Homo sapiens: one gene and its partner. The protein of the gene in region 1 interacts with the protein of each later gene in a pairwise test. Each region holds a gene or a part of one and is shown on either strand. Other genes may lie near its edges.

Evidence for each region.
Region 2: the proteins of ERLIN2 (region 1) and AMFR interact in binary tests that used the Homo sapiens proteins (3 or more experiments, as listed by UniProt).

Annotation. Positions count from the first base shown.
Region 1 is NC_000008.11:37,746,375-37,750,394, forward strand, and holds part of ERLIN2 (erlin-2), read left to right. Parts: exon of another isoform or gene 1-176; intron 177-179; exon of another isoform or gene 180-1,672; intron 1,673-3,184; coding exon 3,185-3,258; intron 3,259-3,419; coding exon 3,420-3,478; intron 3,479-4,020. UniProt on the Homo sapiens protein: Component of the ERLIN1/ERLIN2 complex which mediates the endoplasmic reticulum-associated degradation (ERAD) of inositol 1,4,5-trisphosphate receptors (IP3Rs) such as ITPR1.
Region 2 is NC_000016.10:56,360,952-56,363,748, reverse strand, and holds the end of AMFR (E3 ubiquitin-protein ligase AMFR), read left to right. Parts: intron 1-692; coding exon 693-840; 3' UTR 841-2,297; downstream 2,298-2,797. UniProt on the Homo sapiens protein: E3 ubiquitin-protein ligase that mediates the polyubiquitination of lysine and cysteine residues on target proteins, such as CD3D, CYP3A4, CFTR, INSIG1, SOAT2/ACAT2 and APOB for proteasomal degradation.

The DNA of each region.
Region 1 (4,020 bases):
TTAGTAATACAACTTTTTTTCCTGTCCCAACACCTTTTAATACAGTTGAATGGATAAAAACATGGATACAAACACATGGATATAGTTATCACTGAAGCAGTGTGACATAAAATAATACCTATGTATACAACACTCCTCTGTAAATAGCAAATGTAAAGTAAAAGATACACAACAGATCATTTTGTTTATCTCACTATCATTTATTAATCTATAATGTATCCCTCCTATGTATCCATGCAAGGAAGCAATACTAGCTGCCCGACTAGAGGGCAGCTCCCTTGGGTTACTTATTCAGACCCCATTTTCATTCGGATCTGAGCTGTCTTACCCGCTCACTGCAACTTGGCTTTTCCTTCTTTGAGTATAAAGTCTGACATGGGATGGCTCACCTATAGCTTCAGTGTGTTAAGTAAAGAAAGCTTTATGCAGATTCTGGTTTTTAGTGGGTCTCCTCTGACAGTAGAAAGATTCAAACCACAACCAATTCCAAGAACCCTTCTAAGAACAGAGACAGAGTCACTTCAAAGGATCTGACTTGCTATACCTAAATATAATTCACGCTGCTTTTCTCTATGACGTACCATAATATTTTGTCCAAAAATCTTGAAACATGTTATTAACTTTGAAGAAAGAATAAAACCAGCCACTTTAGAGACCAGAGACACTCAAGCACTTATCTATTCATAAAGTTTCTACACAGCTGAAGAAGTTTGCATCAAATGGACAAAAAATAGTAAAGAAAATCTAAATACAGAAAAAAAATTAGAGAAAAATCCATCTCCTAGAAAGCAGGTCAAATGGACTCAGTTAAAGACCTCACTGCATGTAGGAGAATCAATGGGAAACAACATAAAGCCTTCTGCTGGGATATAAATAGGAACCAGTCTATGTAATCAAGAAGTTACTTTGTCTCCTGATCTAAATGCTTGCCTCCAGTCTAGGGCTCAGAAAAAAAGCCTGGTTATTTGAACTGGTTGTCAATCAAGGTCCCCTTCATTTTCACTTTCTTGGCTTCCCATTCAGCCAGCTCTTGCAGTGGCCTCTTGCTCATGCCTTTGCGCTCCAGCTGTTTTTCAATCACTTTGGCATTCTGTGCATACGAGTCAGCAACTTCCCTAGCCTCAATCTCCTCTTCCTCTTCATCAATGGTAGACACAGTGACAGAACTGAACTTGCCCATGTCTTTGGTCCGTTTGGTCATCATCACCTTCTTAGGAGGCTCTTGTTTCTGAGTATATATGTTCGTTTTCCCAAAGCCCTGGCCAAACTTGACGACTGCTCCATCCACAATGAAGGTAACGGGAGCATTCTTCGGCTGGGATTGGTAGAAGAGCAGCAGTCCACACTTTGCACATTTCTTTCTGTACTGTAGTTCAATGCCTTCAGGTCTCCGCAGATACATAGTCTCTTCGTCTTCTGTGTTACAAAACTTATGGGCATGTTTGGCAGCATCAATCACACGGGACCGGTCCCGGGGCCTCATGGGCAATTTCTCTAACTGACAGTCCAGCACTAGGACCACCTGGCCGCACAAACAGTAGTACACATGGAGGGGCTTCTCGCCGTCGTCATATTCCTCCCGGTCCCGAGTGTCAGAGCAGACTACTGACCGAGACACTACTTTCGGCATGGTTTCCAGGAGCAACCTGAAAAACTCTACGCAAAGAAGAGGGTCGCGCCGAAATGACGTCACGAGCGCGCCTTGCGCCTTTTCCCTGCGGCTACCTTAGTAATACAATTTAAATGGCATTTATCAACATTTCCATAACATATAAACATCAATATTACTAAAACAACTTGAAAAGTATTTCTTTCACATTTTTCCGGTAAGCTACTAGCCCAGGGCCACAGGTTTCCACCTTGACAGATATAATTTGGTCTGAGGAATGACGTTATTAACTTATGGAGGATACGGGCCATTTAAAGTTTGGTTGGTATTCTACTTAAAATTACTTAAAATATGAAATGTAATATTTAGTTCTAGTTGTTAAATTGGTTGACCCCTGGCAGGTGTGAGGTGCCGACTTGATGGCATTTCTCCTTCGGTGCTCAGAGGCTTGTGAGAGCACATCCTATATGTGGAAACGTTACCGTCCCTTGTTTACTGATACTACTGTCTTAAAATCCTAACAATCAAGGCCCACCAGTTAAACAAGCTTGTTATTTTTGCTACTAGCCAGCTTTCATGGGCCTCCGTTTTGGCATCAGTGAAAGAGCGGAGACTTTCTCTTCCTCAGAGGCTCTTATTTGAGCACAGGTGACCACGAAAGGACCACTTAAAGCAGATGGCGGCTGACAGCAAAGGAGAGATGCAGTGTACAAGTCCCAGCCTGATTTCACTCTGTCTTTTTCTCTAAGCCCCTCCGGGATCTTATCAAGGATATCATGGGCAGAAGGCAAGGAAGAGGATTCTAAAACCTGAGAAGCCCATGCCAGAGAAGTCAGCTTTGGTACTGCTGTTCTGAGATTGCAGCTGGAAAGGAAGGTGGGGGGAGAGTCAGTTACAGCTGTTCCTACATTTGTCTGTGAAACAACTCATGTGGATTCCAGACAAAGAAATCAGGACCAAAGCAAACAGCACATCAAAAGCCTGGGGCTCGCTTCCAGAACTGTAAATTTTAATTTTCCCTTTGTGTTGTTTGATGGAGTTCCTAATAGAAACAGTCTTCCTTGGGGCTCTCCTTGACGTCAAAGTCTGTTTTTCTTTTAGAAACTTCTAAAATTACTAGATTTAATGTGCTCAGCTCTTTCCACAAAACCTAAATAGCCATTCCACCTTCCTTCTTCTTGGAAACTGTGAACCTTCCTTCTCTTTTGCTGCTATTGTCTAGGGAAAGGCTGCTGCCTCACGCAAGAAATGTGCTAGAATTGTTTGTTCTTCCTTTTTTTTCTTTTTAAGCTCTCACCCCCTGTAGGGCATGGTTAGTATTTTCAGAACAAAGGTTGAGTTTTATCTTGAGGCACAGAAAGAAAATGCCCTTGCGTTCACCATGTAGAGGGCTGCCTGCACAGGCTGCTTCAGAAGTTGGGCAGGGGATCTTTAGATTTGTGGGCTTTGATAAGCACACTCCCTTGGGAAAGTACATTCTTGAGCTGGTGATTGAGCTTGCACTTTACCTCATCCTGCCCTCCCTCATCTAGAAAGTGTAACAACTCCTTTTTCTCCATCTTTTCTTTATTCCAGATCAGATTGATGAAAATCTCAAACTGGCTTTGCAACAGGACCTGACCTCCATGGCCCCTGGGCTGGTCATTCAAGTAAGCATTGCTGCATGGGAGCAGCCCCTCTCTCTCTGACACTGCTTCCCTTCTCCCAAGGGATGTCCTTTTTGTGCAGGAAGATCAAGGCCCAGTGGGAGCTGGGTGTGTCCCTCACTACCCTCACTTTCCCATCAGCTGCTGTTTTAATCTCTCTCCAGGCTGTGCGGGTAACAAAGCCCAACATACCAGAGGCAATCCGCAGAAACTACGAGTTGATGTGAGTATACCCTCCGCCTGGGCTGTGACCACCACTGCCTCCCACCTCCCACCTCGTCCCATCCCAGAGGTAACCAAAGCTGCCAGGCTTCTCGGTTATCCCCTTGCTGGAGGATTTGCTACAGCCCATTGCACTGTAAGATTGGGCAGGCGTGTCAGGGCCACCACTGGGGCTCCCTACCTGTGATTGAGAACCCCAGGATAATCCCTGTAGAGCAGCGATGTTTTGAAAAGGGCCAGGGGGCCTTGTTTGTGTTCAGTGACTCATGCCCAAGGTGGAGACAGGAGCAAGAGACCAGTAAGTGGACAGGCAGGTGTATTTTACTAAATTATGTTTTATTTCCCACAAATGAGTTACTTGGGAGGAGAAGAGCTATGTTACTGTCAACAACAGATCAGCTTTTACCTGGGCCATCGAACAGCCTTCCAGGAGGAGTAGGAAATGGGAGTTTGCCTCTCTTCAGCAGAAGAATTCGACTTACCTGGGGATAGTGAAGCTCCTGAGTTTTCCATAGCTGCCTCACGGCTTTTTCTTCTCTTCAG
Region 2 (2,797 bases), on another chromosome or scaffold:
CACTGGGCCCCACTGGTCTACCTCTGATGCTGGTACTGTCAGTCATCTCCCATGGACCCCTTTGGCCACGCTTGCCGAGAGAGCACTTGTGTGCTAACCTGATCTAAGCCCTTTATATGAATTACTTTAACAGCTCTAAGAGGGAGCACTGTTAACCCATTCAGCTGACATACAGCTGAAGAAATGGAGGCTGGAGAGGTTAGCACTGGCCTGGCCCTGGCGTCTGTCTCCCAGGTCCTCCCTGTTGACCACTCTGCCTTTCAGCTGAGCATTGTACACACACTCAGCGCATCTGTGCGTCACACACCCATGGTTGGTGGCAGCTACAGCAGGTGTGTCCTGTGGATAGAGGGGGTTTTGTTCCAGCTCTTAAGGACAGGGCCAGCACTGTGTTCCTCAAGTGGGTTTGGGCCCTGGCAGACCCTGTGATTGTGGGAGTTCTGTGCTGTGTCTGTGGGTGGAGGGGATGGGCAGGAAGAGACAGCAGGGAACAGCACTGAAGGGTTCCTCCCTGGTGCAGAGAGAATTTGCGCCCATCTGTTGGGGGCTGGATGTCTTGGTCATTGGGTGGTGCTGAGTGACAGCTTCATGAAGGTGCCTGGACATGGGGAGATGTGAAATCAACCTTCTGGCTGTGTTCCACAGCTCCCCATCTCTCCTATGAGAGAGAAAAAGTCTTCTGTTTTTTCTAGACGTTTCTTGAACAAAAGTTCTGAAGATGATGCGGCCTCAGAGAGCTTCCTCCCCTCGGAAGGTGCGTCCTCTGACCCCGTGACCCTGCGTCGAAGGATGCTGGCTGCCGCCGCGGAACGGAGGCTTCAGAAGCAGCAGACCTCCTAGCGCTCCCTTGCCTTCCTCAGCTGCCTCCTGCGCCCTGTGCCCGACTGACTGGAGGAGGCCTGTCCCAATTCTGCCCGCTCCATGGAAAAGCGGGCTTGACTGCATTGCCGCTGTATAAAGCATGTGGTCTTATAGTGTTTGGACAGCTGATAAATTTAATCCTTCTTTGTAATACTTTCTATGTGACATTTCTCTTCCCCTTAGAAACACTGCAAATTTTAACTGTAGGTATGATCTCTTCTGGTGTTGACTGGACTGCTTGGGGTGGGGGACGATCAGGAGGAAGTGAGCAGTCGCCTGCCTGCAGCAGGCAGCTTCTACTCCTGCCTCATGCGTACGTCCCACAAATGCAGGTGTCCTGAGCACCACACCCAGTGGGAAGAGTGTGGGGGAGGCGCACAGTGTGAGCCCGCCCCCACGTCGTGGGGTAACATCTGTTATCAAACTGCTGTCGTTGTTGTGGAAGCATGTAGACTGTGCCAGAGGCCAGACCCACGGGCTCATGCACCCCTGAGCCAGCAGGGCATCTTGGAAAAGGAACTCTTGGTTCGATACCTGGAGCAGAGGAGGGGAAAGTCCAGGGCTATAGGGTGTGATGAAGTCACCCCTTTCTGTCCCACTACATCTGGGACTGACTTTCCGAGCCTCCAGTCCAAAGCCGGCTTGATTTCCGTGAACTCTGGTGCTCCTGCATCTCATGAGTGTGCCCCATGGGTCCCCTCCCCTCTCAGCATTTCCTTGTCCCGTCTGGACCTGGGGAGTGGTTAGGCAGCAAGCTTTGGTTTATGGTTTTCATTCATTGGTGAAGTAAATTAGGCAGTGCTAAAGCCTGTGGGTTTGGTCCTTGAACAAGATGTGGGCCTTGCAAGATGGGAGAGTAAACCTTGAAGGGCTTTATTAAAGAAATAAAAAAGAACTTTTGTATCTTTTATCCTGGGAGCACTGCGTTTTCCTAGCTGTGTTATTCCTGGTTTAATTCAGCAGAGAAGGTAAGGTGTGAACCTACCTGCCTTGGAGAGGGCCCAGGTCCCAAATCTCTTCAAATTCTTCACATGTTTAACTTTAAGGATTTGAACCATGAAGTCATAGGTTACAGACCTCAGTTTTATGCCCCATTGGATTACTTTTTTTTTTTTTTTTTTTTTTTTTTTTTTTACTCTTTGAAAGCTTTGTTTTGTGGTAGTCCTTTTGGGAAGAATCCAGTATTATCCACAATTATTGGCAAAGTTTAAATGTATTTTACATAACGGAAAGTTTTTAGAATGTTGAAAAGTAATTGAAAAAGGTGATAGGTAAATTTTTAGGCAAAGATAATTTATTTCAATAAATCTTTCAAAAGCCTTACCTTGAAATGCTGTTAGTAAATTTCTGTGATTTTTTTTTTTAATTTGTTTTGCTGAGAGCATAGCTATTTGTTTTTATTGTAAAACAATAATAATAATAAAAAGCAAACTCTATTGGTGTGTTGTGTGTGGCTGGAAGCTAAGGCATGTTTTTGTGTGGCTGGAAGCTAAGGCATCTTTTTCCAGAGGTGCCAACGTTAAACCCCATTTTGATTTGGATTTTGTGTATACTATTTTGGTTGGAGGGTTTTTTCCCATGTTTTTGAATTGGGAACTTTTGTTTTTCCTAGTAGTGTATTTGGGGAAGGCAGAACTACATTTTTCTTCCCCTTGTATTTATATCTTTTTTTTTTTCAGGTAAGTGTGTAGCGAAAGATTATTTTACTGTCCTCGAATTACATTATACTTCACACGTTGCACCCATTGTAGGTGCCACTAATTCCACATGTTCACAGGTTTCTGATGTGTGAAAAGAGAAAATTACTTGGATCAATTTTAGAGGGTCTTGACACATTACAAAACAGCCATATCACAGTGTTTAGAGCAGGAGCTTATTAAGTAGCTTAAAATGATGCAAGAAGTGAAGTTCTCAGTCCGCCCTTCCATTTTACACC